Homo sapiens: one gene and its partner. The protein of the gene in region 1 interacts with the protein of each later gene in a pairwise test. Each region holds a gene or a part of one and is shown on either strand. Other genes may lie near its edges. The genes, in order: BEGAIN and SAXO1.

The links.
Region 2: the proteins of BEGAIN (region 1) and SAXO1 interact in binary tests that used the Homo sapiens proteins (3 or more experiments, as listed by UniProt).

Annotation. Positions count from the first base shown.
Region 1 is NC_000014.9:100,574,605-100,586,066, reverse strand, and holds part of BEGAIN (brain-enriched guanylate kinase-associated protein), read left to right. Parts: intron 1-11,462. UniProt on the Homo sapiens protein: May sustain the structure of the postsynaptic density (PSD).
Region 2 is NC_000009.12:19,019,985-19,031,446, forward strand, and holds part of SAXO1 (stabilizer of axonemal microtubules 1), read right to left. Parts: intron 1-11,462. UniProt on the Homo sapiens protein: May play a role in the regulation of cilium length. Stabilizes microtubules at low temperature.

The DNA of each region.
Region 1 (11,462 bases):
GGTGGCTCTGCCTGGCATCTGTGACACGCAGGGCGGGGAGACGGCAGAGAGGGCCCCAGCAGCATCCTGCAAACCCTTAATTTTCCCGACTCTCACTATAATCAGGGCAGCTTGGAAAAGCAAGCACTGTGGCAGATGCGGCTCTGCCCGGGCTCAGCACACGGGCTCTGGGCGATGGGCGGCTGCGCTGCCGCCAAGGGCCCTCCCCAGCTTTTGTCTCATATTTATAGATTCCAAGGCTCCGCGTTCCGTTTGTCGTCAAAACCTGGAGCTGTTCGCACCTGGGAGCTGAGTGGGGAGGGGAGGGCTGCCTAGAACCTCAGCCTGGAGGATGAGTTTTCCATGCGCTGGGGTGGAGTAGGGGGACACCTGTCAGAGCCCAGGCCTGGAGAGAGGAAATGAGCCCTAAGCAATCTGGAAGATCTTCCATCCACTCTCCCAAGACTTGGGCGCAGGGTCTGGCCCACATAGCTGCCATTTATGGAACGCCTGCTATGTACTGGGCCCTGGATCAGCATTTCCACGCATCATCTCCACGGCAACACTTTGAAGGAGCTTCCCTACTCCTGCAGGCACTCCTGATGCTGAAGAGTGGATGGATGGATGAATGGATGGATGGATGGATGGATGGATGGATGGATGGATGGATGGGAGGGAGGGAGGGATGGATGGGAGGGATGGATGGATGGGAGGGAGGGAGGGAGGGATGGATGGATGGGAGGGAGGGAGGGAGGGATGGATGGGAGGGAGGGAAGGAGGGATGGATGGGAGGGATGGGAGGGATGGATGGATGGGATGGATGGATGGATGGATGGGAGGGAGGGAGGGAGGGAGGGATGGATGGATGGATGGATGGATGGATGGATGGATGGGAGGGATTGACTGAAGCCCATGAGTCCATGGCTATTGGACACAGTCCACAAATCATTACCCAGGGTCCCAGGAGGTGGGGTCCAAGGGCTGAGTAGTTGCTGAACAGATGAAGGGGTCAAGGTGTGTTACAGGAGCCTGGCCCAAGGCCTGAAGGTGATGGGGAGAGTGTAGAGTGTTCAAGTCTCAAGACTTAGAGAGGCTGTGTCCTGCTGGAGTGTGGAAGCCATGGCGGTGGGGAGGTGTGGCTCCTCCCCCTAAGGGAGGTAAGGATCCCTGGGACAGATGGGTGGGTGACCCTAGGACTCGCCGTGTTGGTCTAGAATCACCCCGCATGGTTCTCTTCTGACTCCCCTTCCTGCCGCAGAGCTGGTCGCTAGCCTTAGTGGAGAGGCCTGGACGGAGGTCTGCAGCCCTGGGTTCTGGTTCCTCCTCTGCCGCTGACTCACTGTCTCCTCTCTAGGGCTCCGTATCAGAAGCTTAACACCCATTACAGTCAGGGGAGTGACTTCTGTGGCCTGAGAGCAGGCATCAGATTGTAGCCTGTGGTGGGAGAAGCTGGCCAGAGGTGTCTCTATTGCTTTAATCATTATAGGAATGAATGAATGAATGAATGATGAATGACTAAGTGTGTGAATTCTACACTCACCTAACATGCTGTACCTAAGCACCCACTCTGCACTGCTCATTGGGGTCACTTAGGTGAGTCTGACACAGACCTTGCCCTCCACGAGTCCACAGTTTGCTGGGAGACATGGACCTTGGCCAGTACGGCAGGAGTCAGGAGCTGCTGGGGCTCTTCTCTCCCCTCTAGCCAGGAAGGGAACTCAAAAGTGGCCCTTGCCTCAGCAGGCCTTGAGTCTGGAGGACAGTACAGCAGCCTCTGTGGTCTGCCTGGGGTGGGGATCAGCCAGGGCCCAGCTCTGAGCCAAGCAGGGGAATTGCAGTCATTGGTTCAATCAGCAAGCCCTGAGCCCAAGTCAGGGATGGAGATGGGTCAGGCCTGGGCTTTGCCTGGGGAAGCCAGACATGGAAGCCTGGTCATCCCACAGTGGGTGCATGCTGGGATTAAGAGGTGCATGAGGTGGAGAAGCAACGCAGGCATGCTGAAGGGGATGCATGGGTGGATGATACTGTATGGAAGGGAAGCACTAGCAGGATAGAGCAGCGGATGGATGGGTAGAAACCTAGAGGGATAGGCTGGGCGCAGCGGCTCACGCCTGTAATCCCAGCACTTTGGGAGGCCAAGGTGAGTGGACCACCTGAGGTCAGGAGTTCAAGACCAGCCTGACCAATATGGTGAAACCCCGTCTCTATAAAAATACAAAAAAAATTAGGTGGGTGTGGTGGTGTGCACCTGTAGTTCCAGCCATTTGGGAGGCTGAGACAGGAGAATTGCTTGAACCCAGGAGGCAGAGGTGAGGTTGCAGTGAGCCGAGATCGTGCCACTACACTCCAGCCCCTGGGCAACAGAGTGAGACTCCATCAAAAAAAAAAAAAAAAAGGAAGAAAAACGAAAGAGAGAGAGAGAAAGAAAGAAAAAAAGAAAAGAAAGAAAGAAAGAGAGAAAGAGGGATAGATGGACGGGAGGAGAGGTTGATGGATGTAAGTAGCAAGATAGGGATGGGTGGGTGGACAGATGGAAAAGTTGATATGGATACAGGACTGGATTGATAGAACAAAATATCAATGGATGATACATGGGTGGAGGGAGGGAGACTTCTGATACACAAGGCAAGATTGGTAGATGAATGGATGGAAGGATCTTTGGATGGATGGATGAAGGAATGGATACATAAATGGATACAGGTAGTGCCTGGATGTTGGGATGGGTGGATGAATACTTGAATACATGTCCATGAATGATGGACAGAGGAATGAATGGACACTGGAAGAGTGAGTGCATGGATAGGTGATGAGTGTATATTGACGGATGTGTGGATAGAGGCCTGAGAAGGCAGCTCAGTGCACAAATGGATACAAAGCAATGGATGCATGGATACGAGACACAAGTAACAGAGGAATGGACAGACATGGAGGGATGGGCAGGCGGACAGATGGAGACGGGAGTGAGAGGACCAGTGAACAGATGAGTGCCCATCAGCGGGTGAGGGACACAGAGACAGAAGGATGTGTTGGTGCGTGGATGGCACCTGTAAATGGGTGAGCGGTCACAGGGGTGGATGGTGAAGGACGGTTGGTTGAATGGGTGAAGCTTCAGGTCACTCATGCCTTGATTTCCCAGATGCCAGTGTTTTGCTCACAGACCCCCATGTCCCTCTGCTTCAGAGACATATACTACGCAGGCGCAGGGTCAGGAGGGGGCTGATCAGACAGGGAGACTTAACCCCACCTTGACTTTGGTGGGAGAAAAGCCAACCCAAACTAACAGCTATTTGGCCTTTCCAGGCCCGCTTTGCCCTGGAAGACCCACTCAGGAAATAAGGAAGAAGCAGTGAGACCTCTTCGAAAGGTCAGCGGCCAGCCGGGGTTCCTACAGGGGCGTCCTTGCCCAGGGATCTCCCTGGAAGACCTGGACAGCTGTGTACATGTCCTATCTGAGGAAGAGAACTGGGGCACCTGTGTTGGGTGCTGGGGACTGGGAGACATCAAGACCATGGCTGCCCTTGGAGATTCTGAGGCCAGCGTGGAAAATCCAGGGACAGCGGGGCAGGTGATTAGGAGCACAAGTGTGCGGATTCCCAGAGCCTCAGTGTCCTCAACTGCAAAAGGGGAATAATAATAGACACTTCTGACTGGGCGCGGTGGCTCACGCCTGTAATCCCAGCACTTTGGGAGGCCGAGGTGGGCCGATCACGAGGTCAGGAGATCAAGACCATCCCGGCCAACATGGAGAAACCCCATCTCTACTAAAAATACAAAAATTAGCTGGGCATGGTGGTGCGTGCCTGTAATCCCAGCTACTTGGGAGGCTGAGGCAGGAGAATCGCTTAAACCGGGGAGTCAGAGGTTGCAGTGAGCCGAGATCGCGCCACTGCACTCTAGCCTGGCAGCAGAGCGAGACCTGTCTCAAAAACAAAAGAGAAAAAAGAAAGAAAGGAAAAAAAATAAACTTCTGTGCTGGGACGAGGGGAAGGTTGGTGAAGGTGACCACACCTCTGCTGGCCTATGCTGCGGCCCCTGGCGCATGCCCGCACCATGGGGGTTTACCCGAGACCCCTCAGAGCCCAGTTTCCTCCTCCGTGAAGCGGGGTAGCTGCTCCTAGCTTTCAGGCCTGCTGTAAGAATGAAGCGAGGTGACGTTTGGCACTGTCAGCAGAAGCCCGGCATGCCTGCCCACTCGGCAGGGTCCTCCCAACATCCTGTGGCCTGGTCTTCCTGCTCCAATCCCAGCAGACAGTGGGCAGCCTCATGCCCCTTCTGTCCGAGCTGGCAGGGGCCAGCTTTCCAACCACAGGGGCAGTGTGTGCCAGGCAGCAGGAGAGGGGCTTGGGCATCTGGAGAGGAAACGGGTGTGAGTGCCTGACCTTTGGGGTTCTGTCCTGGGCCTGACATGCCCAAGCCATGTGACCTCCGACGGGTCACTGCACCTTTCTGAGACCCTGCTTCTTTTAGCAGAAAATAGAGCCTTTGGCTGTCCTGATGCACAGAGGCGGGTGGGGATTTGGGGTGATGACGCATGCACAGCACGGAGCTTGGCACGCAGGATGGGCTTGGGAAGCAGGACTGAATCAGATGAGTCAAGAGGCAGGGGCTGCGGTGCCAGGAGCCGGAAGCCCCTCCAGGAGAGGTTGTCCAGGCTGCTGGTAGGTGAGCAGGTCCAGGCCGTGAGCCCACGGTAGCCGGCAGCATCCTTAGAGCCTCAGGCCCAGGCGCCTGAGAGCCAGCAGGTTGTTATGACAACGGAAACTTGCCTGATGCAGCCTGAAACTCTGGAAGCAGCTCAGAGGACTGGTTGGCCAGAGCCCCCAGAACACTCCTGCAACCATGCGTGCTAGTGAAACGGCCACATCAGAGCCCCAGTGCTAATGAGTCCTGAAGTCCCTTGCTCATGCCACTTCCCAGCACTGCCATGGGCTGAGTACTGCCCCATGCCCACCTGACAGATGAGGAGGGGATGTGGCTTGCCCGCAGGCCTGTTGGAGTGTTGGAGAAGGGATTTGAACTTGGATCTGCCAGCCTCCAAGTCTCTTTCCCACTGGTAATAGGGCAGGGGCTGAACGGCTGCTGCTGGGGAAGGGCTGTCCGGGTGTAGAGGGGCGACTGTCGGGGACCATAGGGTGGGAGGAGGACACTGTGGCCTCCCGAGAGCCTGAGATCCCTCCCCTATATTCTCATCCTGTTTCCAGTCACAGTAGGCCCACACCAGGCTGGGGATGTTTGTGAACTGACAGCCTGAACCTGCTATGCCATTCATTCAGTCAGTCATTCAAGAACTACGCATTGAGCACCTGCTATGTGCCAGGCCCTATGCAAAGAGCTGGGATACAGTGGAAGTTACATTCTACGGGGGGACACACACACAGATAATAAATAATTGCAAACATTAGTTACAGCTGGGGGCCAGGGCTATAAGGGGCTGCCGCAGGGGTACTTGATCTAATCTGAGGGACAGAGGGGGACAGGCTGTGAAACTGGGACCCTGAAGGTCAGCTGGGAATTAGATGATGGGAAGGAGGGGAAGGGAGAGAGTGAGAGTGTTTCTGGCAGAGGGAAAGCAAGTGCAAAGGCCCTGAGGTCAGATAGAGCTTAGCACATTCAGGACCTGAGAGACGTTCCTTGGCAGCGGGGAGCACGGGGCGGGAGGGTAGCAGAGAGAGAGAGAAGACACCAGCAATTGTCAGGGCCTTGCAGTGTATATGAAGGTGTGACGTTGTCTAGTCACCTGGCCTGTGATTTTATTTATTTTTTCTTTATTTATGTGTTTATTTTTTAGATAGAGTCTTGCCCTGTCACCCAGGCTGGAGTGCAGTGGTGTGATCTCAGCTCACTGCAACCTCTGCCTCCCGGGTTCAAGTGATTCTTCTGCTTCAGCCTCCCAAGGCTGGGACTACAGGCAGGCGCCACCACACCCAGCTAATTTTTGTATTTTTAGTAGAGATGGGGTTTCACCATGTTGGTTAGGCTAGTCTCGAACTCCTGACCTCAGGTGATCCGCCTGCCTCGGCCTCCCAAAGTGCTGGGATTCCAGGCGTGAGCCACCGCACCCGGCCTGGTCTGTGATTTTAAAAGGTCACACTCGCCGTGTTTGTGGGATAGGCCGGGCTGGATCCGCATCGACTCAGGAGGCACAGGAAGGGATGATCGCAGATGTCCAAGTGAGACATGGTAGTGTCTGGTACCAGCAAAGTGATGGTGAGGATGCAGGGAGGTGGCCAGGCCTGAGAAAGGCTGAATCTCCAGGGCCTGGCAGCCAGGGGCGGGGACAGGGAAGAGGGAAGGAAAGAGTTGAAGCGGCCCCTGTTCCTGTCTTGGGTGGCTGAGGCCATGGTGAGGCCACGCACTGAGTTTTGCAGACTCAGTCAGGGGCGCTTTGGGCATTCAGAGAGGTGTCCGGCAGAGCTCAGAAAAGCAGGGGTCCTCAGCACCTGATGGAGGCATCCAGACAGAGCCCAGATGTACAGCTATGAGCATGCCACACAGGGCCTCAGCCTCGCTCCAAGCAGCACCAGAGGCCAGGCCAGCGATGGTGGTAATGCCCACCAGGCCAAGGGCCTGGGCTGCCACCCCTGGAAAGCCTTCCTTCAGTCTAGCAGCCTAAAGCCGCATCCTAGGAAGGATCTCTGTGTGGGGTGCAGTGGGCAGGCGTGTCTCCCTTCACACAAATGATGGAGGGTCCAGGTCTGGCTCTAACCCTTCTCTAAGTTTATCTCCCTGGCCCCACTCCCACCTAACTACACCCGAGGCCTCCATGTGCCAAAGGCTCTTGCTCATAGCGTTAACAACTGCTTTTTCTCACCCTAACCCTGTATATCATTGGAGAATTGCACATAGCTGCTACCAACAGAGATGAAATAACCATAGCTTAAAGACAAGAGGTTATTTTTCTTTCAAGTTAAAGAAGTACCAGAAGCAGGCCAGGCACAGTGGCTCACGCCTATAATCCCAGCACTTTGGGAGGCCAAGGCAGGCGGATCACCTGAGGTCAGGAGTTCGAGACTAGCCTGACCAACATGGTGAAACTCTGTGTCTACAAAAAATACAAAAATTAGCCAGGCATGGTAGCAGGCGCCTGTAGTCTCAACTACTTTGGAAGCTGAGGCAGGAGAATTGCTTGAATCTGGGAGCGGAAGTTGCAGTGAGCCGAGATCATGCCATTGTAATCCAGCCTGGGCAACAAGAGCGAAACTCCATCTCAGAAAAAAAAAAAAAAAAAAAAGTACCAGAGGCAGATGATGCAAGGCTGGTGTGATGATGATTCAGTGGTCATGAGATATCCGGATTCCTTTTGTCTTTCTGCTCCTCCATCTTTTATATATGGCTGCTGCCACAAGTTTGTCTCATGGTGCAAAATGGCTGCCACAGCTCCAGCCATCACTTCCATGTTCTAGAGAAGAAGCAGGAGGTTGGTGAATGGGAAAAAGACACAGGCTGGCTGTCTGATCTTTTCTGCAGAGTTCTGCCAGCAGTCACACCCAACTTCTGTTTATAGTTCATTGGCTACCTCCTGGCCTGGCTTATAGGAGCCTGGGAAAGGTGGTCTTTTAGCCGACTACCCTGTATCTCAAAAGAAAATGAAGGCTCTGTAATAAGGATGCATGGGAGGACTGTGGGCTGCCCGCAGCCTCTGCCACCCCCTTCCATTTGCTGGTTTGCTGCAGTTCCAGTTTGCCCTGCTTCAGGCCCAGCACTCAAGCCATCATGGTGGCCACCGTGGCCATCTGTCCACTGCCTGTCCTCTGTGCCCCTGCACCCTGCACCGCACCTGGCAGAGGAGATGTGAGAGTAGGAGAGGGGGAGGCCCAGCCTAGGGCCCTGTGCACCATGGGAGCTCACTCAGGGAGGGCTCCTCCCCAGGCAGAGCCCAGGACACGACCTTCCCCTCTCTAGCACTTTCTAAGCCCTGAAGCTCAGCTCTCATTTAGTGAGAATCGATTTGGGGGTGGGAGGCCAAGAGGCCCTGCCACTGGATCAATGGGCAGGCGGGCATCTGGCAGGCAGCCCTGGCCTGTGAGGACGGGAGGCACAGCCCCCAAGAGGGCACAGGGATCCCAGCCCCATGGGAGGAGAGGAGTGGGTGACGGCGCTCTTGGGGAGCCCGGACCTTGGACTGACTCAGGAGGATGCTCTCAGGGGCCAGCTCCCAGGCACGGGGCTCTAACCCTACCTGTCCCAGGCAGGACGGCTACAGCTCCCTCCTGGAGCCCGGGACAGAAGCCCCCATCAAGGAAGCTCACAGACAGGACCTTCGAAGCCACATGCCAAGCCCCAGCCAAGGTCGGAACCCCAAGGGCAAAGCATCTTGCCACCGCTGGGCAGCTCGGTCCAGCCAGGAGATGGCCCGGGTGTCGCCAGCCCAGCCTTCCTCCCCAGAGTCCCTGAACACAGGCAGCCGGGCTGTCACTGGCTCCCTCGCACGCCTGGGCCGCTGGCGGGAGGCCAGACTGCCCTTCTCCAGGTTCCTGGATGAGGTCACTGTGCGGGTTCTGGACCCTGGGACCCTGGAGGCCTTCAGGGTGCCCAGAGGCCGCAGCCCAGAGCCCTCTGCAGTGGATCGAGGCCAAGGTCTAGCCCAGGAGGCCCTTACAAGAGCTGCAGCCCCAGGGGAGAAGGACCCAGCCCTGAGCTCCCAGCTTTCTTCGGAGGCGGCCACTGAGGCTGCAAGCAGAGTGGGGCCAGGCCAGGCCGTGGGAACTAGTGGGCCTTGCTTGGGCAGTGGCAAGCGTGGAGGCCGGACTGCCTCCCCTTGGAGGTCTCCAGGTCGGGTGAGTCTCAACCCCAGAGGTCTCTTCCCTCCCCATGTGCCGCTTCCCCACAGGCCCTGGCTGACCTGCTCCGAGTTCCCTCCCCACACCCCATTTATAATATTTGTAACGGGAAAGACCTTAATTGCCAAAAGAATGAATCTCTAAGGTGAAATTTCTGGCTTTGGGGCAGGCAGACTATTTCTGTACGGAAGGCATATGCATGAACAGTAATGATAACAATTATAATAATCCCCTCCCCACTGCGGCAGAGCCTTGGTGGTTTACCTTGGGCTTTCCCGTGATTATCCTTTTACATTTTTGAACCTGACACAACCCCACATGAGGCAGACTGTCCCATAGGCCTGTCAGGCAGCTTTCATAGCTGCCCCAATTATATGGAGTTGGAAACTGAGGTTGTGAGGGGCTGCCACTTGTCCCGGGTGACACAGGTAGTCCGGGCTTGGGCTGTAGAGCTCTTTCCTCGTACCCCGTCCACACATGCACTCTGGCCTCAGACAGATGGACAGGTGGATGGGCAAAAGATGTGGTGAGATTTCCTTGGCTGTCCTGGTGATGGAGCTGTGCAGAGCGTCGGGCAAATGGGACCTCATCCAGGGGCTGGCACCCCCACCTTGGTGCTGACCTTTCCTGCCCTGTACCATCTGTGTCCCCTGGGCCAGGGAGGGTCCTCGTGGGCTGCCCGGATGTTGCTCGTGCCCCAGTTCCACCTTCTCCCAACACAGGATGGAGACGGAGGCCGTGGGATGGGTTTGTGGGATATCAACCTGTAGCCACCCAGGAAGGCTTTCCTGCCGGGAGGGGGTCTGTTCTGAGGATGAATTCCGGGTGAGCACGGTGACTCTCGCCGAGTGATACTCGCCGAGCATTGACTAGTGTTCTCAGCTTCTGACCCCCAGCTTGGGCGCAACCCCAGGAGGTCGGCGCCATCATTATGTCCCCAGTGCATGGAGGAGGAGGGAGGTGGAGGAGCCGGGTTGGGCCCAGGCACTTTGCCCTCCACCTCTGCACCTCTGCCACCTGTGTGCTGCTGGCCCTCAGGTGGCCTGCTCTGTCCAGGGATGGCCAGGGACAGGCCGGTGGGTGGGAAGTTCTGGTGATTTGAAGCCCTGCCAGCCCTTTCCCTGTAGGTCTGCATGGCCAGCTGGGGCCAGGCAGCTCTGGGTGGAAGTGCATCTCGAGGGTCAGTGGCCTTCTGTGTGACTCTGGACAGGTCACCCATCCTCATCATGCCTCAGTTTCCCCAGCAGTGAAAAGTCAGTCATGACCACAGGCACCTAATAAGCATTGTTTCCCCGCCTGCTCCTCCAGGGGTGGTGAGCTGGGAGCCCCACTTCTCTGCTGCTCTTGGCTCCACTTACCACGCAGACCGTCCTCTGGGGGCTGCTGGGCCCTGGGGGAGTCCTGGTGCCACCCAGGCCCTGGAGGATTCCATCCCAGGGCTTCTTGCACATATCTCTTGGGGCCTCAGGGCCTGTTGGGGCCCAACAGTGTGTTCAGGGGGCGAGGCTGCACCCTGGGGCCTGGCCAGAGTGGCCCCACCCGGGAACCCAGCTTGACTCCTTGAAGCGGGAGGTGGCATCAGCCCCAGCAGGAGGGGCTGGACCATACCTGGCCTTGGAGGCCCTGGTCTCCAGGCCTAACTCCTGCTGCACCCCACCTTCCCCCACCAGCCCCCCAGGATCGTATCTCATGATGGGCACCAACTCTGAGCCCCTCAGCTCCAGCCTCAGATCAAATACAGCAAGCCTGAGAAAGTGATCCTAGGGTCAGTCTCATTCTATAAACCAGGCACTGAGGCCCGGAAGACTGAGTCCAGCAGAGTCCTGGTTGGGCTGTGCCCTGGCTCAAGTCACACTCCCCCCAGTGTCTCCATGGGGACATTAGAGATAACTGGGGAAGGACCCTGGCCCAAGGTAGGGATTCAGCCGCCGGGATGATAGTGGTGATAAAGATAGCGATGCCAGCCCTTCACAGGGGCTTGTCTGTTGATTTGAGCACCCACTGTGTGCCTCGTACCTTCCTGGCCTGGACAAGCCTGTGTCCCCAGAATGCTTTCTGGAGGGGGTGGCTCTGGGGAAGCAAGGCAGATCCCTGGCTTCCAGTCACCAACCTGCAGACCGTTTCTTGAGAGACAATGCCTGGGGCTCCACCATGAACCACTTCTGGGAGGAAGCTGCTGCCCCAGGAGGACCCTGGGTTTCAGTCCTGTCCTGTGCTGTCCTGCCTGGCTGAGTGGCCATGGGTGAGTCTCTGGTCCTCCTCTTCACTGGTCAGCAAACAAGAGGCTACTGTAGAAGGTCTCTAGGACCGCCGGTTATCACAGACTTGGGACTGAGCCTCATTTATACTAGTGTGAATGACTCGATCCAATGTTTATCTGAGAACAAAAGTCAAGAAGGAGCAGGAAGCACAGGGCCAGGGGCATGGCCCTGGGTGGGGTCATGACAGCACCCCCAATGCAAGTCCCCAAGGCTGCAGTTGGATCCTGTCTGAGAGGCTTTCCGGCTGAGTGACCTTGAATAAGTCACTCTGCCCTACTGGCCTCAGCCTCCCGATAATAGGGAAAGCTCAGATGTGGATGGTCCCCTTCCTGAATGGGGGACCCCCAAGGTGCCTGGAGAGGGGGCAGCTGCTTCCCAGCCCCGCTGACTGTTGCCACGTGGGAATGTGGGCCGACGTTGCCAGATCTTCCAAAATTTTCAG
Region 2 (11,462 bases), on another chromosome or scaffold:
ATATAAACTGGCCATCCTGGTCACCAGCAGGTATTATTAAAAAAAAAAAAAAAAGTGTCCACGTGGAAAGCATCCTTCAGTTGTGGTCTGACAAAGCAAAAGTCCAATGACTGGACACTCTACCTCCATTGAGCGTAGCACTAAGTTAATGCTTCTTCACAGCCACATCATACCCTCAGATCACATAAAACTGTAGTGAAGTAAAACCCCAAGATCTTTTCACAAACTGAAAAGGCCAAGATAAACCACCTCCATTATGACTATGTGTAATTGATTTTTCATCCCAAATGTAAAACTTCATGCTTACTCTTGCTAAGTTCCAGTTTGTTTGGGGCCCAGCATTTCAGCCTGTCGAAATAATTTTTTTTTTTTTTTGTGAGACAGGGTCTTGCCTTGTTTCCTGGGCTGGGATTCAGTGGTGCGATCTCAGCTCACTGCATCACTGCAACCTCCGCCTCCAAGGCTCAAGCCATCCTCCCACCTCAGCATCCCCAGCACCTGGGACTACAGGCACGCACCACCATAACCAGCTAATTTTTTGTTGTTGTATTTTTTGTAGAAACAGGGTTTCACCATGCAGCCCAGGCTGGTCTTGAACTCCTGGGCTCAAGTGATTTGCCCACCTCAGCCTCCAAAAATGCTAGGATTACAGGTGTGAGCCACTGGGCATAACCAAGATAATTTTGAATCTTCATTCTGTCATCTATTATGCTTGCTATGTTCTTCTCACTTTGTGTTCTCAGCACACTTGATAAGGATGTCTTCTGTGTCTTCATCCAAGTTTTGATTAAAAATGTTGAACATGACAAAGCTAACAATAGAGTTCTAGGGCATGGGGATATTGTTCCAGTATCACTAACAATGGTGACATTGTTTTAAGCAGGTAAAAAGCCATCTGTTGAAACTCTTCTGGCCTGCTTGTTCAATGACCTGGGAATCCACCTAACCTAATATTGTCATCCAACCCATCTTTCACTAGCTTTATCCACAAGATTATCTTGGCAAGAATTGTTGCAAGGCCAATTGTTTCCTCTTAATTATTTTCTTCCAAACTACATCTTTATTACCTAAAACTGCTCTCCTCTAGCTGCCCAGTTTGTTCTATGTGACCTCACCCCTCCTGATGCTCAGCTGATTAGACCACAGGAGACAGCCTCATGCCAGAAGAGCCACCTGTCACAGGCTGGACCCAACCAGGAGCTCTTTTCTGTGGAATTTGGAAACAGCACATTAAACTCTTTAGTTCTCTGAAATGAGAAGTGGTATGAAGCTAGGGCTGGGGTAGCCACAGACAGCCAACGTGCAGAGGAAGTCAGAGTACCCAGAAGAAAACAGATCAGACACCGCAAGAGCCATAAGGTCCGAGAAAGACACATACTCCCAACTAGCCATTAAATACTTTTGATGAACTCAGGAAAACATCTGTCCACCTTCAGGTCTGTGCCCCATGTCCCCTTTTCCCTGACTTCTCTTGAGGTCGCCAGCAGAGGCTGTAGAAGACCTCTGCAGACACCTTCTGGGCCCTGACATGGAAGTTCTCTGGACCTGAAAAAACACCGCTATAGATGATGGGAATCCCACTGTCTGAGGATCACTGATTTTTGACAGTCTAGAGATATTCAAGGACCTGAACAAGTTCACAAAGCTTGTAAGTAATTAAATCCAGGACTGCAATCCCAACAGTCATAGTGAGAGGTGAAGCCAGCTGAGCTTCTGGGTCAGGTGGGTACTTGGAGAACTTTTGTGTCTAGCTAAAGGATTGCAAATGCACCAATCAGCACTCTGTAAAACTGCACCAGTCAGCAATCTGTGTCTAGCTAAAGCATTGTAAACGCACCAATCAGCACTCTGTAAAATGGACCAATCAGCACTCTGTAAAATGGACCAATCAACACTCTGTAAAATGGACCAATCAGAAGGATGTGGGCAGGGCCCAGTAAGGAAATAAAAGCTGGCCACCCAAGCCAGCAAGGGCAACCTGCTCAGCAGTGGCAACTGGGTCGGGTCCCCTTCCCCATTGTGGAAGCTTTGTTCTTTTGCTCTTCACAATAAATCTTGCTGCTGCTCACTCCTTGGGTCCGCACTATCTTTATGAGCTGTAACACTCAGTGTGAGTTTCTGTGGCTTCATTCCTGAAATCAGCAAGACCACGAACCCACGGGGAGAAACGAACAACTCCGGAGGCGCCACCTTTAAGAGCTGTAACACTCACTGCAAAGGTCTGCAGCTCCACTCCTTAAGTCAGAGAGATCACCAACCCACTGGAAGGAAGAAACTCTGGACACATCTGAACATCTGAAGGAACAAACTCTGGACACACCATCTGTAAGAACTGTAACATTCACTGCGAGAGTCTGCGGCTTCATTCTTGAAGTGAGTGAGACCAAGAATCCACCAGAAGGAACCAATTCCAGACACAATAGCATGTTCTTCCCCTAATATTACTCACTGCCCTCCCATGTGAAGCAAGATAAAGAACAGGGTATTCAATTGACTCTGCTCTTCATTTGGAGCTGTTGTTCACAGATTGTATGTAGAGTTTTTTTCATTTGCAGAAGACTTGAAATGCATCATACTTGAAAGAGAAATTGGACCATTATGGGGAAAGATAGTGATTTTTAAAAATAGTTACTCATAATGGGTAGTTTCTAAAAGTTAAGTTATTGACCAGCACTGGGAGAAACTTAACTGATTTTTTACATTACAACCCCAATTTGTTAACATTAGAATGAAGGGCTTTTGGATAGTCTAGATATTTAAAATATAAGGATATATTTTGCTTAGCAGCTAATTTGACAGCCATTTAGAAACATTTTTCTTTCCTTTTAGAGAAACAACCAGAGAAACTTCAAAGTTACTTTGAACAAGCTGGTAAAGACAATAAAACAGAATAGTAGGGTATGCTATGCAGGGAGTACGTCTTTAATCCCCAGAGTCATTGTTTTGAAGACTTGCAAAGTTCAAAACTGAACAGCAACTTAACCTTAGTGTTTGTTAATGTCAGTATGAACTCACAAAGCCTAATAAATGCTGGACTCAAGTGTAGGCATCCCAGAAAGGGCAGAGAGCCTCCCAGAGTATAAGGAGTAGATGAAGTCTTTGCAAACCATTCTTATCATCAATATTTAATCAAGCCCCCCAAACACCAGATTACATCCCCCCCCACCCCCCCGCCCCACCGGAGTTAATTCTCTGCAGGGCATTTTTTATTACATGCAAGTTAGTAAACAATCCTAACTCTCTTCTCTAGGGTGCGAGCTCCACAGAGCTGCTGGCAGGATCTCCCACTCAGACTCAAGTGCTCAGGCAAGTACACTTCTTCATTCTTCATTGCCTAGAACAGACCTTTATGCTTATTTAATAACATCTACCTATGCCTTACTGTGGATGCACGCATTGTTCTACTTGCTTAATACTGATTCAATCCTCTCAATAACTCTGTTGAGTCAGGTTCTATCTCCCTTTTACTGATGAGAACGCTGAGGTACACAGAAATAGAAACTTCACTGTGAAATGGTTTAACATGACACAGTTAGGGAGCAGAAAGGCTGGGATTTGAACCAAGATAGGCTGGCTCCACAGTCTGCGCTTGGAACTGCAATACTCTGCCACTTCTCGTAGTCAATCATCACTTAATCATGTGTTAAATCAAGTTAAGAAAAGTGACAAGAATGGAATGGAGATAATATATCTTTAAGGAAATATTAGCAAACTACAAATCCACTCAGAAAAACCAAAACATTAACAGATTTAAAGTCAGCCTAATTCAGATATTGGGCATTTCTGAAGAAGAAAGAAGGAAGGAAGGGAGGGAGGAAAGCAAGGAAAGGAAAGAAAGGAAGGAAAGGGAGGAAAGGAACGAAGGAACGAACAAAGGGGGCCAGGCACAGTAGCTCCTCACACCAGCACTTTGGGAGTCCGAGGTGGGAAGATTGCTTGAGCCCAGGAGTTTGAGACTAACCTAGGCAACATAGTGACACCTCATCTCTATATTTTAAAAAAGAAGAAGAAATGCTACTCTTTAAGGCTTTTTTTTTTTTTTTTTTTTTTTTTTTTTTGCGGGGGAAAAGACTATTTATCTATGTTACTCTCCAGCTCAAAATCCATCCATGGCTCTTTGCTGGCGAGTTCACATTCTGAGACATGTAAGAGTCCCTCTGCAATTTGCCTCCAGCAAGCTTCCGGCACGATCTCCTGCAGGCTCAAGTACTCAGGCAGACATGATGTCTTCCGTGTCTCTCTGACTGCCCTGCCCTGCAGCAAGGGCAGCCGCACTAAACCCCAACATACCCTTTCCTCCAGGGCCTGTGCTCCTCTCCCGCCTAATCCTCACACCAACCTTAAGAATATCGCAAGGACAAAAAACCAAACACCGCATGTTCTCACTCATAGGTGGGAACTGAACAATGAGAACACATGGACACAGGAAGGGGAACATCACACACCGGGGACAGTTGTGGGGTGGGGCGAGGGGGGGAGGGATAGCATTAGGAGATATACCTAATGCTAAATGACGAGTTAATGGGTGCAGCACACCAACATGGCACATGTATAGATATGTAACTAACCTGCACGTTGTGCACATGTACCCTAAAACTTAAAGTATAATAATAATAAAATTTAAAAAAAAGTGGCAGAGCCAGCATTTGAAACCAGGCAGTCTCACTCCAGCTTCACTTTCCTCATCACTTCTCCATCCTAAAGCCTTCCCCGGCTACCCCATCCCAAAGCGCCTCTCCCACCCCTCACATCCTACATCACTTGTTTTATTGGTCTCATTCATCTAAGGGTAGCTGTTTCCACCCCTCCACCACCCATCCCGAGACATGTCATCTTTCCAAATAAACTATAAATCACCTGAAGGTCAGTAATAAATATTTTAATATCAATGGAGGGAATGACGTTTAAAACTGCCCACTACAGAACAGAATCAGAACATGTTACTCTGAACGGATCCATCTGCAGACTATAAGGTCGAATAGATCATGTTTACTGCTGTAATTGGAATATGAAGTTGTACTCTAATAATATCTGAAATTTGACATATACCCACTTGTACTCATTTTATAAGATGAAAGGTATTTATGAACAATTAAACATTAATTCTGATATCCAAAAAAGGCCATTTTTAAGGAGCATAACATAGCTTAACATGAAAAGTACATGAAATCTACAATAAAAATTCAATCTTAACGTGAAAGTTTTTCTTTTTTTTCTTGGCATCTCTATCTGGATTCTGCTAAAGATAAGTCATCAGCAAGTATCTGTTAAAGGCTGTTCTTTGTGTTTTTTTTCCTTAATCAGAATTTATGAAGTCAATTTTATTTAAATTAAAAATAAGAATTCTTCTTAAAACATGTAATATGAAACCAAGTCCTCAATTTTTTTTCCTTCCTCTTAATGTGTAACAGAGACTCTAAGAAAATAAAATCTAAGGTTAAGGAAATTTCCATCGATATGAAGAAAATATTTTCCAAAATTAAAATAACAAGTTCCTCCCTGGTTAACATAACTGATTTAAGTTGCAGATACATGGCTGCCCCTGAGATCACCTTCCTCCACAAGCTCTGTGAAAGGGCCAAATCCACATCCTTTTCAGCAATTTTTGAGTCCTCTATGGGACTACCTTTTTTATGAAATGCTGCACATACTACCAATGCTTCATAAATATTTCATGATACATTAACCAGTCCTGGAATTTCCTGCAAGATTGCACAAAATCTTTAAAATGGTGCACTGTAAGCTGTAAAATAATCAGATATAAAAGTAAGCTATATCAATCCCTTCATTAACAATTTTTTACAAGAATTTTAGAAAAAGTAGTGTTACTACATTTTAATCTCAGGAGGGAGATTTGCTATTTATATTACTTTACTAAAAGGCTTTTAGAATTACACTTTTTTTTTTATATCAGATACTATTTTCTCAGTTGGACCAGAGCCTTCATATTGTACTCTACAATCAAAAATGGCCCATTGTGGGAGTTGGGGGAACTAATTAAGTTGGTTAATGGATACAAAAATAAGTTGGATAGAAGAAATAAATTACAGTGTTTGATAATACAGTAGGGTGACTATAGTTATAATTTGCCATATATTTCAAAATAGCTAGAAGATTATTTGTAAGCTTCCCAATACAAATAAATGATCAATGTGTGAAGTGATAGATATGCTAATTACCCTAATTTGATTGTTACATGTTATATGAATATATCAAAATGTCACTTGTACCCCAGAAATATGTACAATCATTATGTATCAATTTTTTAAATGGTCCAGTGTGACTCGAAAATAGACCAGACTATAAATTTTAACACCTAGCAGTGTCTGATACCCAGTAAAATATGAATAAAATTTAATTGATTGACCTAAATTGTGCCTGAAGCTTAACATGTTCCCATATATTAAAATTAATCTCAATGTTTCTATTTCCTTATCTGTAAAATAAAAGAGCTAGAGACCACTAAGATCCCTTTCAGCTTTAAAAGTCTGATTAACGTTTTACTTTACAGCAACCCTGCCTTGCGCCACCCACTCCCCCACCTAACCACAGTTTCAAATTTAGTCATCTGGGAAAGAACAGCTCAATAGACTGAAAACATCGCCAGGGAAAAGAGAGGCTAAAATCAAGGAATCGAATTTCCAAACTAAGCAATGCTTCCCATGTTGAGGGACCCACAGTAAGATAATAATATATGGGAAAATACTTTTTGAATTTTCAAAATACTGTAAAGATGGAAGGTGGTTTAATATTATAAAATGCTGGGCCGGGCGTGGTAGCTCACACCTGTAGTCTGAGCACTTTGGGAGGCTGAGGTGGGTGGATCACAAGGTCAGGAGTTCAAGACCAGCCTGGCCAACATGGTGAAACCCCATCTCTACTAAAAATTCAAAAACTAGAAAAGAAGATGGCAACCGTGTGGGATGAGGCCAAGCAAGATGGAACTGGGGTGGAGGTGCTCAACATGTCCACGGAGGAGATCATCCAGCGCACATGGCTTCTGGACAGTGAGATCAAGATCATGAAGAGTTAACTGTTGAGAGTCACCCATGAGCTCCAAGCCATGAAGGACAAGATCAAAGAGAACAGTGAGAAAATCAATGTGAACAAAACCCTGGTGTACCTTGTCTCCAACATCATCGAGCTCCTGGATGTTGATCCCAATGATCAAGAGGAGGATGGTCCAAATATTGACCTGGACTCCCAGAGGAAGGACAAGTGTGCTGTGATCAAAACCTCTACACGACAGACATACTTCCTACCTGTGATTGGATTGGTGGATGTTGAAAAGCTAAAGCCAGGAGACCTGGTGGGTGTGAACAAAGACTCCTATCCAATCCTGGAGACACTGCCCAGAGTACGACTCGCGGGTGAAGGCCACAGAGGTGGATGAGAGACCCACGGAGCAATACAGTGACACTGGGGGCTTGGACAAGCAGATCCAGGAACTGGTGGAGGCCACTGTCTTGTCAATGAACCACAAGGAGAAGTTTGAGAACTTGCGGATCCAACATCCAAAAGGGGTGCTGGCCCCCAGGGACGGAGAAGACCCTCCTGGCCTGGGCCTGTAGGGCACAGACTAAGGCCACCTTCCTAAAGCTGACTGGCCCCCAGCTGGTGCAGATGTTCACTGGAGATGGTGCCAAGCTAGTCCGGGATGCCTTCGCCCTGGCCAAGGAGAAAGCGCCCTCCATCATCTTCACTGATGAGCTGGATGCCATAGGCACCAAGCACTTTGACAGCGAGAAGTCCGGGGACCGAGAGGTGCAGAGGACGATGCTGGAGCTTCTGAACCAGCTGGATGGCTTCCAGCCCAACACCCAAGTTAAGGTAATTGCAGTCACAAACCGGGTGGACATCCTGGACCCCGCCCTGCTACGCTAGGGCGGCCTGGACCGCAAGATCGAGTGCCTGGGCCAGAATCATGCAGATCCACTCCCAAAAGATGAACGTCAGTCCTGACGTGAACTGCGAGGGAGCTGACCCGCTGCACAGATGACTTCAACGGGGCCCAGTGCAAGGCTGTGTCTGTGGAGGCGGGTATGATCGCACTGCGCAGGGGTGCCACGGAGCTCACCCACGAGGACTACATGGAAGGCATCCTGGAGGTCCAGGCCAAGAAGAAAGCCAACCTACAGTACTACGCCTAGGGCACGGCAGGCCAGCCCCGGACTCGCGGCTGAAGTGCGCAATAAAAGATGGTTTAGAGGCAAAATAAAACAAAACAAAAAAAATACAAAAATTAGCCGGCCGTAGTGGCGGGCGCCTGTAATCCCAGCTGCTCGGGAGGCTGAGGCAGGAGAATCGCTTGAGCCCGGGAGGCGGAGGTTGCAATAAGCCAAGATCGCGCCATTGCACTCCAGCCTGGGCAACAGAGCGAGACTCCGTCTCAAAAAAAATAAAAAATAAAACTCTTCGGAGTAGCATTTTTTCAATAACAGGAAATGCTGGAGATAATCAGATGCAATTGGAAACATTATACTCTCATATACAAAATTAGAGTTACTCTATTCAAAGCACTCCCCCACCATGTAGCTTCTTAAGTCAAGATAATTAAGTGGTACATTAGTTTCAAAAAAAATTTAGATGCTGACCTTACTGTTTCTGCAAACCACAATACTCTGCTTTTTTGGTGCTGATTATGTTGAAAAGAGAATATTATGACATTCTATGGTAATAATTCCAATTGCAAGATTTTGATCTTCAAGGAAAGAAGTAGAGCATTGTTGTGGAGGCAAAGCCTTGAGCTTGACGCAGTAAAATATGTCTGATTTTTTTTTTAGCCCAGCAAAGCTCACTGAAAAGTTTTACAAGTGATTGGAATCTTTAAATTTAGACATTTGAAACACTTTTCACTTCGTAATCTGCCATCTACTCTGAAAGGCGTACCACTTTCCTGAGCTCTGCTGGACCCTAAACTCTAATTGCTCATTTTAGAAAACTAAAGATAAATCTATTTAAAAATAAAATAAAATCCAGAACTCCAAAGGTTTTGCTTTTCCATTCAGGCTGATTTGGTTTAACCCGCAGTGAGAATTGATCAGGAAACGTCTGCCATCTTGTGGCCAAATATAAGAACTTGCTCCAAGAGAGTCACCCATTGGTGGCTTTTCCTCAGCAGCTGTGGGCAGCTGCTCCTGCAGATGGACACCTTTTTATCCAGGCCTCTGAGCATCTCCAGAGCCCACTCGCCAACAAGTACAATGTCCTCAAAAGTTAAAGTTGAAAGGACATTAAAGAATTATTTGCTCAAGAAAAACTTCGGAAGAAGAGAATGTGAGAGAGAAGGGGGAATAAATGTGCCTCTCTCCCTCCCTGGCAGCCCTGAGGGTCTCCACAAATCTCCAGGATTAAAAAATGGGGGAACTGAAGCCCAGAGAGAACCAGTGACTCACTCAGGAACCCCGGTCTCCCCCTCCCACTCAAGGGCGCTGTCTCTGACTTCTTCATGCATGCTTGTCTTCCAGATTTCCCATTGCTTTTTCCCATGACCTCAGACTGGAAAAGCCAAATATAGACTTCCACAGCTTAGAAAACACCTATAAAATTCCTCGCTCCATCCCAACCGGTCACTGAGCAGATTTAATTGGGGTGGGAGGGATTTAATTGGGGTGGGAGAGATCAAGACTTCCAAATAATGAGACTCAAGATCAGTGTTGTCCAACAGAACTTTCCGCAGTGATGGAAACACTCCCTATCTGCATGTGCCGGTATGGGAGTGACTATACTCGAGTAGCTACTGAGCACTTGACATGTGGCTTGTGCAGCTGAGAAACTGAATTTTTAGTTTTATTTAACTTTCATTTATTTAAATGAAATTGCCACAGCTGGCTACCATACTGGACAGTACATCTCTAAATCTTACATTCCTAACCCAGTCCAGCATGTTATGACCTTGACAAACAAAAAACGCCATCCATTCATTCAAAAAGATATGTGTTAGCTGTTAATAAAGAAAACTGTGTTGCTATGATACAGTGCACACACAAAAATAGAAAATATCTGTTTTCCCAGCGTACATATAATTAATCGAGGATATAAAGCATGCTGATGCATAGAGGATGAGAACACGGAGCGGGGTTTTTCTTTGATGGGGAGCCACAGGGCTGGGTTAACAGGGAACTTGCAAGTGAAACCGGGCCTTACAAGTCCAGCAGGAGGAGGGAACATAGGTATTTTAGAGAAAGGGAAAGGATAAGGATCAGAAAAGGGACATCAGCAGGTCCACTCAGGGGATGCCAAGAAACCTGATCCAATTCAAGGTGTAGTTTCATGTAAGGGAATCATGGGAGAAAAAAAAACTAGGAAGGTAATTTAGGACCAGTTTCCAAACACAAAAATGAGAGAACCAGGGAGGTTGTAACCGGAATAAAAGGGAAGGGACCAATTAAAGAAAGATTACAATGGAGGAGGGACCCAGACTTTAGAAAAGAGTCAATGTGCCAGGCTCGGTGGCTCACGCCTGTAATCCCAACACTTTTGGAGGCCAAGGTAGGTGGATCATTTGAGGTCAGGAGTTTAAGACCAGCTGGCCAACATGGTGAAACCCCATCTCTACTAAAAATGCAAAAATTAGCCCAGCATGGTGGTGGGTACCTGTAATCCCAGCTACTTGGGAGGCTGGGGCAGGAGAATCGTTTGAACCCAGCAGGCGGAGGTTGCAGTGAGCAGAGATCGCGCCACTGCACGACAGAGTAAGACTCCATCTCAAAAAAATAAAAAAAATAAAAAAATAAGAAGAAGAAAAAGATTCAATGTTCTGTTTGAGGGAGAGTAAGAGATGATTCAAAATTTTCACCCAGGGTGAATGGAAGATTGCTGGCACCATGAATGGGGCAGATACCAGAATAATGTTTGAAGGTTGTTGAAGTTGAGATTAATGAGACAGATGGATCACCAAAGCACTTTGAGAAGATGAAAATGAAACTGGAATTCAGAAGACAGGAGAAACTATTGGCTGAAACCATAAAATGGAGGAGAAAATACAGGATGAGGAGAGAAGAAAAGGAGAAGAGACACAAGAACAGACTCTGCTTCCAATGGAAAGTGACTCCTTTGCAGGGACAGAATGAGAACAGAGTCAGAGAAGGAACACCCAAATGAGTCATAACCCTACTGCAGGGGCAGGAGGGAGACTTCTCACTATATATGCTCTGCACCTCTTAATGAGCATTCTGCCTTCCTACCTAGACTGCACGCTGTGCAAAGATGGAGACTATGTCTTATACATTCAATCCCAATGCCTAGAACAATGCAGGAGGACACAGGAGGGTAATGTAAAGCATCCCAGTAGAAAGAAGGCCTTAGTGGCTCATGCCTGTAATCCCAGCACTTTGGGAGGCCGAGGCAGGCGATCACCTGAGATCAGGAGTTCAAAACCAGCCTGGACAACATGGTTGAAACCCTGTCTCTACTAAAAATACAAAAATTAGCCAGGCATGGTGGCATGTGCCTGTAATCCC